2 separate regions of the Homo sapiens genome follow, and region 2 is linked to region 1. The links come from fine-mapping of genetic effects on gene expression. Tissue or cell type: whole blood. Region 1 holds a variant in brackets; the other region holds the start of a gene. All regions are shown on one strand. Distances are between the middles of the regions. Region 1 overlaps LYRM4-AS1 (LYRM4 antisense RNA 1). Region 2 holds the start of PPP1R3G (protein phosphatase 1 regulatory subunit 3G).

The links. PIP is the estimated chance that this variant, and not a neighbour inherited with it, causes the effect.
Region 2: it holds the start of PPP1R3G, and the variant in region 1 is fine-mapped to the expression of PPP1R3G in whole blood (INTERVAL, PIP above 0.99). The same link has a PIP of 0.9 or more in T cells, blood mononuclear cells and monocytes.

What each region holds. Positions count from the first base shown.
Region 1 is chr6:5,058,832-5,063,215 of GRCh38, reverse strand. All of the region lies in intron 2 of LYRM4-AS1 (LYRM4 antisense RNA 1), which reads right to left. It also overlaps a transcript of LYRM4 not described here. Among named protein-coding and RNA genes, the nearest start is that of PPP1R3G, 24 kb to the left of the region's middle. The variant G/A (reference allele first, on the strand shown) is at 1,856.
Region 2 is chr6:5,083,326-5,087,709 of GRCh38, reverse strand. It overlaps PPP1R3G (protein phosphatase 1 regulatory subunit 3G), which reads right to left and starts at 2,369. Exons shown (of 1, transcript NM_001145115.3): 1 at 1-2,369. The coding sequence starts at 2,224. The coding sequence ends at 1,148. All of the region lies in intron 3 of LYRM4-AS1 (LYRM4 antisense RNA 1), which reads right to left. It also overlaps a transcript of LYRM4 not described here. RefSeq lists silencers at 1,618-1,847, 1,878-1,927, 2,068-2,167, 2,418-2,597, 3,008-3,287 and 1 more and an enhancer at 1,398-2,087.

The DNA.
Region 1 (4,384 bases):
CCAGTTTCAGTGCCTTCCTAAAAAAGAAAAATCAAAGCTTGCTGCCCAGTTTGCCCCATTCAAAAAAAATCCTATTCAGGAAGACTTTGTATTGAGGGAAAATGTCCACAGGTGACTCCTCTTGTGCCTGTTGAGAAGGAGGTGCAGAGATGGAAATGACTCATGGGAAGCTGCTTTGTGAACGAGCAGACCCAGTGGTTCGATAATGGATGCCCACACCACCCTCCACCACGGTCCACTTGACCACAGGATAGTCAGCGGCACATGAGTCCTTCCAAGGGCCCTTGCCAGTGTGACCTCCTCCTTCCCTTCCCCTCCTGGCTTGCGGCAGGCTTTGATTTGCTCCAAATCCAATGGTTGCATTCATCAGAGATCACAGATTCTAAAGTGTGCAGCCTCTCCCATGAGGTTCTAATTCCAGAAGTCACCTGACAGAGCCAGAAATGCATGGACCACTTGCACAGAGAAGTAAATTATGTCCTGAGAGTCGCCTGGATCCTGGGGAGGTGGAAAACTGTCCTCAAACAGGATGTGTTATGTGTTTTCAGTAGAAGAGCCAGCTGGCAGCTCACCTGCAGCTCTGAGCAAGGGAGGCTTCTAATCCTTCCTGCCATGCTGCCTCGGTGATACCATCCCTTTGGCCACATTTGTCTTAGGCCTTTATTAAAAGGGAAGGGTGAATTAAATAAAACAATGATGTGGAAGAAAAATGCAGATAGGTCATGAAATTCAGGGGAAATGATATTATTAAGAAATGAAAATAAGGCCAGACATGGTGGCTCTCAGCACTTTGGGAGGCTGAGGTGGGAGGATCACTTGATGCCAGGAGTTCGAGACCAGCCTGGGCAACACAGTGAACCCTGTCTCTAAACATATATATATATGTTAATATATGTTATAAATATATTAATTAATATGTATTATAAATATTATCAACATATAAATATATAATTAATATATATTAATTAGCTGGGGTGTTGGTGTGCACATGTAGTCCTAGCTACTTGGGAGACTGAAATGGTAGGATCACTTGAGCCTAGGAGTTTGAGGCTGCAGTGAGCTATTATCGCACCACTGCACACTAGCCTGGGCAACAGAGCGAGACCCTATCTCAAAAAAAAAAAAAAAAAAAAAGAAGAAGGAAGGGGAAGAAGAAATAAAGAAATGAAAATAATAGTATTTTAAGCCAGGAGAATAGAAGGAAGAAAATGGCAAAGTATCAGTATTAAACACCCCGCTATTGTGGAGGTGGTACGAAAGTACCAGAGTTAATTATAAAAAAGTTGAGCAATGCACACATATAAAAGACCTCCATTGCTAGAGAATTACAAAGGTGATAACATTCTCAATTATGGCATAAATATTCCATCTCTGGGTCTTGCGTCTTATTCATGGTGTTCATTTCTTCCAGTGCTTTGTAATTCATTGTGTGTGAACTGATTTTTGTGAGTTTTCTATGGGACTCCCGTGAGCTCTGGGTGGCTGCGGAATAGAACAGTACAAGACTTCCTGTTGCCAGAGTCTCTGGGGATTTCAATGGTCATGGATCGGTTTTGTGTTCGTTTTTCAGGTTTTAGTTCTTGCACCATGCAGGTAGTTAGATTCAGATCCCAACCCCATAGCCCCTAGCCACCTTCAGCGTTTGCTATTGAACACACATTTGATCTGCGTAAGCCTGGTAAGTGAAAAGCTTGGGAGGCAACTAATATTTCTGCATTTCTCTCATTATTTATGACATAGATAGGATTAACCTTTTTTATTTTACAATTGTTCACTATCTTGTATAAAATAAGGGCAAAATGCAATAAGATATTCAAACAATTGTGAAATCATCGTTTTGCTATTGTGAAACAAA[G/A]GTGGCAGTTCAGCCAAAACTGAACTATTGACTGACAGGCAGGCCTCTGCACGTGGTGTGACAGTTTGTGCATGAAAATAGACAACTTCTAGTAAATCAGGTTTGGGTTAAAAGAGACAAAAATCTAAAGCTGATAAATAAATTAAAATCAGAAAAATAGAAGAAATGAAGGATTAAAAATTAAACACTAAGAAGTTAAAAGTAAAATAATCCCTCACCAAAAAATACAATTAATTAACTGTCTTTTTAATTAATTAAGTGACCTGCATGGCCAGCCTCCTGTGTGAAGGACCTGAGAGGACTATAAACTGTTTCTGAGCCTCTCCTGTGTCCCCTCTTGAGGCTGCACCTGACTGGCTGTCCCCTAAATTTAAGAACACAGAACAGTATAGGATAAAGGTGGCATTCAAAATTGGTCGAGAAAATATGAATTATTTAATAAATACCACTGGTATAACTAGTTGGCTATGGGGTGGGCAGAATCTCTCTGAATTCTAATTCTCAAAATAAATTCCAGATAAATTGAAAAATATAGCTGGGCACGGTGGCTCACGCCTGTAATCCTAGCACTTTGGGAGGCTGACGCAGGTGGATCATCTGAGGTCAGGAGTTCGAGACCAGCCTGGGCAACACAGTGAAACTCCGTGTCTACTAAAAATACAAAAATTACCCAGGTGTGATGGCGCATGCCTGTAATCCCAGCTACTCAGGAGGCTGAGACATAAGAATAACTTGAACCCGAGAGGCAGACGTGTGAGCTGATTTTTGTGAGTTTTCTATGGGAGTGCTATGGAGATGGTACCACTGCATTCCAACCTGGGTGACACAGTGAGACTTTGTCTCAAAAAAAAAAAAATACAAAAATCGAAACTCAAGGGGACTATAAGAAAGTGTAGGCAACTAAAAAAAACCTTCACTGGGCAAGACCTGACTTAAGCAAGAAACAAAACCAAAAGGCCTACATGAATGTACCTGCAAAGCATAAACAGTAATGTACCTGCTTAAAAATCCAACATTTTTTCATGGCAAAAATTATAACAAACAAATCCAAAAGACAATCAACACACAGAGATCAATATTCCCACCATCTTTGAAAAAAAGGCTCACTCTTTGGAGGGCAATAAAATAATATCTATCAATGTTTTAAAAGAAATAGTTTTGACCTAAGAACTCTGCTTCTAGAACTTGATCCCACACTTTCGTGTGTACATATGTATTTCACTGAAGCACTGTTAGTAACAGGAAAAGACCAGAAACAATGTACATGCTCATTAAAGAGGGGACAAGTTCAATATATTATGGGACATCCAGATTTCATGTTGGAGGGGCCAAAGGAAAACTTCCCCTTTGCCTTCTGAATGCTGGCTGAAAATCAACTGACAAAAGATAGATTAAAGCCAGGTGTCATGTCTCATGCCTATAGTCCCAGCTACTCAAAAGACTGAGGCGGGAGGATCACTTGAGCCCAGGAGTTCAAGGCTGCAATGAGCTATGCTTACACCACTCTACTCCAGCCTGGGCAACAGAGCAAGACCCCTGTCTCTTAAAAAAAAAAAAAAGGCAGATTAACAGGAGAAGAGTCATATAAATTTATTAGCATGTGATTCTCCCACCATGCAATGGGGTACAGATGGTTAAATACCCTTCTTTTTAGGGAAAGGGAGATGAGGAAATGTGGATGATGTTAGGTGGTAGGAAAGGATTTTTAGGATGATTCAATGAACTTGAAGAGCATACAATGGCCTGGGGACAAAGTCTGATGGGGCCGCAGAGCAGGCATGTCCAGGTGTGTTGACAGACCACAGTCCTCTTCCTGCGACAAGAATTCAGTTAATGGAAACTCAGGGAAGGGAGTCGAGTAGCTGTTCTTGGGCGGATATGAAACAATCCCCAAGATACAGAGTTAAGAAAAAATCAGAGAGGCCCAGAACTGTGTGAATACCAAGTTTTTATTAGTGCAATAAAAGGGGAGGAGTGTGCTTCTTATGTACACAGAGGACTTTTTTTTTTTTTTTTTTTTGAGACAGGGCGCTGCTCTGTTGCACGGGCCGGAATGCTGTGCCACCGTCATAGCTCACTGTGGCTTTGAACTTCTGGCCTCAAGGGATCCTCCCACCTCAGCCTCCCGGGTAGCTAAGACTACATGTGTGTGCCACCACACCTGGTTAATTTTTTAATTTTCTGTACAGACTGGGTCTCTCAATATTGCCCATGCTAGTCTTGAACTCCGGGGCTCAAGGGATCCTCCGGCCTCAGCCTCCCAAAGTGCTAGGATTACAGACATGAGCCACCATGCCTGGCCATATAGAGGACTTCTAAAAGGAAACACAAGAAGCCAGTAGCAGTGTCACCTCTGGAGACAGAGATTAGGAGAGCAGAGGTCTTGCTTGCTTTTCATTGTGTATGCTTTTCATCTCTTTCCATTTTCGTCATGTGCTTTTATTACTTTTTCAATTAAAAGCAGTTAATGATAAATCAGGGAAAACAAGTTGGAAGCAAGACATTTTTACCTTAAAGGAATATAAAGAA
Region 2 (4,384 bases), 24 kb before region 1:
ACTGACTCGCTGGGCATGCCTCCTCTTCCATCAAGTCACCACTCCCCACTGTGGCTCTGAGAGGAACAGAAAGCCACTTTCCCATCCCCCATCCCCTGCGCTGGCAGTCCAGCGACTAAAAGGGCCCAGCTTCTCTGACTGCTAATGGCCCGGCAAGTCTCCTAACAGTGTGCTCTGCCTACACAAAGGGCGCCGGGGCGTGCGTGCCCGGCTCTCGCAGATCACAGCCAGGGCCTGCCCGAGGACTGGCATTTCAATTCACCAAACGTCTTAATTCGGAGGGGGACGGAACACTTTCTACAGAACATTTTAAAGCACATGGGAAGTTTGGGCCCTTTCGCAGTAGAGAGGAAGGAACGAAGGGGAGGAATTTGTAGGCTGTTGTTTAAGGATTGTTAAAGTGCGCACATCATCAGCTGACAAAGATCGGCCGACTGCCAATGCCTCCCCAAACTCACGAAAGCCAAAATTCAGAGTACAGCGTAAAAGGGGGTGCGAGTGGCCTTTACTTTTATAAAGGACATTTGTACACAATGTCGCACAATAAACAACGTCAAGTCTGGGCACACATTACCCACATCTCAGTCAAAAGAAAAGGGTGGCCTGGCCCAGCCCCGAAGGGTTTTCTCTGAGAAATAGGTTGGGGTGTAAAGGTCCCACGCGTGCACCCACAGTCCGTGGCACCTTCCTCTGGTGCACCGTGGCAGGACGCTTTGTTCTTTCCCTAGGGGTCTCCAGCAAACTGCAAGGGCTACAATATGATATTTAGAGTTAAAAACCAATCCCAAGGCCTTAGAACCATGCCCGGGAGTTGGGAGCCTTTTTCTTGGAGGCAGCTGCTCCGGGCCTTGGAAGTTTCTTCCTATTCTGACGCAGGCTGGGAATTCTAGAGGCCTTGTAGGAAGGTCAAACGGACGAGAAGACTGAGGTCAGAGGCTTTCGGAGCATTGCCCGGGCTCTCTAAGCTCGCTCACTTGTCTGCGGGGGTGCGAGTCGACGGTTCAAAGTCTCCCTCCTTTCCCTCCACGCGCCCCTCACGCCAGACTCGCCACGCTCAGCAAAGCGTCCCAGCAAGTTCCTTGAGGCGGCAGCCCGAGCTCCACGTGCTAATCAACCCCGCCCCACGGCTCTTCGAAACTCTCCAGGCTCAGAGCGCGTCCGCAGGGCGCGCGTAGCGCAGCGTGTAGTTGGCGCCCGCGTTGTTGTCCCAGTACTCGCCCTGCGCGCAGCGGTAGCAGACAGCGAAGTGGACCGCGACGCCGCGCTCGTCGGCGTCCTCTTCGTCCTCAGGCTGCAGGCCCGGGGGCAGGCACAGCGAGAAGTGGAAGCACTCGGCGCCTGGCTCTTTCTTGGCATCCCCGGACCCTGGCTCGGAGGCCCCAGACGGTGCCTCTGGCTGCTGTGGCTCCAGCGGCTCGGGCTGCAGCTCAGCCGGCACGTCCAGGAAGGAGCGCCACTCGGTAAAGGTGTAGCGCACGGTCACGGCCCTGGGCCCAGGGCAGCTGAGCACCCGGCCGGAGCCCTTCACCTCAGCGCCCGAGGCCGTCGAGCACTGCACGCGCTCCAGGCACACGCGCTGCCGCTGCAGACGCTCGGCCGCGGCGCTCGGCCCCGGGAGCTGGAAGAGCGGCCGGAGCCGGGAAGGCGGCGCTGAAAGGGGCGCGGCCACTGCCGCCGCGGCCAGCAGCCCCCCGAGCTGCTCCAGGTCCTCGGCACGCATAGGGAAGCTTCGGAGGCGCGAGAGCACGGCGGGCGGCACCTGCGGCTCCTCCGCCTCGCTGAAGTGCTTCACGCTGGCCAGGCTTAGCCCCAGCGTGTCCGCGAACTGCACCCGCTTCTTGCACTTGGCGCAGCAGCCGCCCGGGCCGAGCTGTGCGTCCTCCGCCCCCTCGCCGCCCAGTGCCACCGCCTGTTGCTGCTGCTGCTGCAGGAACTTGGCCGCCTGCAAGATGGGGTCGGCGGGCAAGGAAAAGGAGCGCGCGCGGCAGCGGCGGCGGCATTCCAGCAGCTCCTCCTGCTCCTGGGGGGCGGCCTCTTCCTTCGGGGACAGGGGCCTATCCCCTAGCTGAGCGTCAGGACTCGGGGTCTCCGAAGCGCCACCGCCGTCGCCGCCACCCTGCACACAGGGGACCACCGGGGCGGGCAGCTCCTCGGCCGGCGGGGCCTCTCGGAAGGGCGCTGGTCCCGGCGCCTCCAAACTTAGCCGCGCCCCTATGGGCTCCATGACGCCGTTCGCCCCTGGACTTGCTCGGGCCGAACCGGGCCCCTCTGGAGACTTAACTAACTCCTCGGGCCGTGGAAGGAGCGCAGGGCTGCAGTTCAGGCTCGCCCTCCCCGAGGCGAGTCGCCCCAGGCTCGACAAGACAACGTAGTTCCACTTTGGAGCCTCCGGCTTTTAGCTGCGGCTGCCCAGGGCGAAGTGGGAGGAGGATGCGGGCCTGGGGCCGGCTCCGGGGCCACGCCGCCTCCCGGTTGAACCTGCCCGCGACGGGGGAGGGCCGGGGGCGGGGAGGCGCGGCCGCTGGGACACCTGGAAGCCGTGTTCCCGAGTGCTCCGGTGGAATGCGGGGGGCGACTTTCTGTCGTTCGCGGGCTCCCTGCAGCCCTCACCCGCACCCCCGGCGGGGCTCGCGTCTGTTCCGCTTCTTGAGTGCCTCGAAGTGGGGGTGCAGAGCTCGCGCTCAACCTTCAGAGACCCCCACGTGCACAAAGTCTTCCTGCCCATGAACTTGGCCTGACGGCTCTGCCCCCAGAGGGTCACTGAGCGCTCTCCTCTTGGCTGCCTCACGGGCTGGGGAGTCCCCGGTGCAGCGCGCAACTGGGGAAATCTTGCCTACGCAGAGGCTGGAAGGAGGCCCATTCCGCGCCGCCGGAGAGCGGGGAGCGCATCCCTTCCCTTCTGCTCCTGCTTTCCCCAAACTTCAGGGCGCCCCGGGTTCCAATCCCACTCGGAAGCCTGACTCGGTCAGGCGCGCTCCGCTCTGCTCTTCCGAAAGCCGGGAGGCAGGAGCCGCCGCCCCCATCTGCCCAGTGGCGGCGCGGGGTGGGCTGCGGCCAGACTGGGGCGGGGACCGTGTGGGGACGCGCCGGGGAGCGGCCATGGCCCGCAGCCGAGAGCGGCCGGAGGCCATTCGCGCCAGGCCCGGGAGCACGTCCCGCCCCTCCCCCTGTCCCGCCCGACGCGCCCGCGAGTCCGCGCCCCGGGATCCCGCAGGGAGGGCGGAGAGGGGGCCCCGTGGGGCCGGCGCCCACGCGGCACGCACCACCTCCCACCGCAACCGGACGCCAGCGCCCCAAGCACCCTCCCCGCCCACCGGGAGTGGGGGCGTGGCCCGCGCCGGACTGCGCTGTCACCGCCCTGCTGCTCCGGCCTTGCCAGGGGCCAAGGCCCGAACCTGAGGCCGGGGAGGGGTGGGGAAGCGCGTCGTGGTACCTAGGGATTGGGGGAACGTCTAAAAGTGGTGTTTTTCTTGTTTTGGTTTTAAGGCCACCCTGAGGGCCATCTAAGTCAGTGATTCTACTTCAGCATGCACGGACATCACTCGGGGGCCCGTTGTCACATCACAGGGCCCCACTCCCAGAGTTTCCTTCTTTCTAACTTTTTCGAGATAGGGGTCTTGCTATGCTGCCCAGGTTGGTCTCAAATTCCCGGCCTCAAGCAGTCCTCCCGCCTCAGCCTCTAAGGTAGCTGGGATTACAGGCGCCCCCCACTGCTCCCAGCTCCCTAGCGTTTGTGACTCAGTGGGCTTGGGCTGGGGCCTGGAAGTATTTCTAACAAGGGGATGCTGATGCTGGGCTCTGGGGACCGTATTTAAACCTATGTGGATGTGTATTCAGTTACTTATATAGAAAGTTGGGGATTCTAGAAACAGAACCACTAATTAAGAAACGTAATTAATTGGGGCTTCATAACTAAAACATGTCATGGTTTGGCAGAACTGAAAGGGGCCAGGGTTTTAGCCATGTTGGCAGAGGGCAGGCAAAAGAGATGGTGGGTGAGGAGCGTGTTAAGAGCTTACATTGATTGACTGAGCACCTACAGGATGTCCTGTCCATGAAATAGGAATCACATCATTCCTGCCTACATATAGGACACAACACTGCAGAAAGATTTCTCATCGCCAAGGCCCCACAGGGTGGCTTTCATGGGATTTGAAGCCAGGCAGCTTAGAGGAAACATTTCCCCCATCACTACTAAGCCTGGGCTGGGAGTGATGTCCTGTAAAGGGGGCCCTGCCGGTCCCCTTGCTGGACTCTTGCTGGTCATTTTATGCCCAGTGTGGAATTCCATGACTGTGTCTTGACTTGGGCATGGCATCTCCAAGAGGCCCCAGGCGCACACGGCCTGTCTTCCTGCAGCAACTCTGATTTCGGGAAGGACATT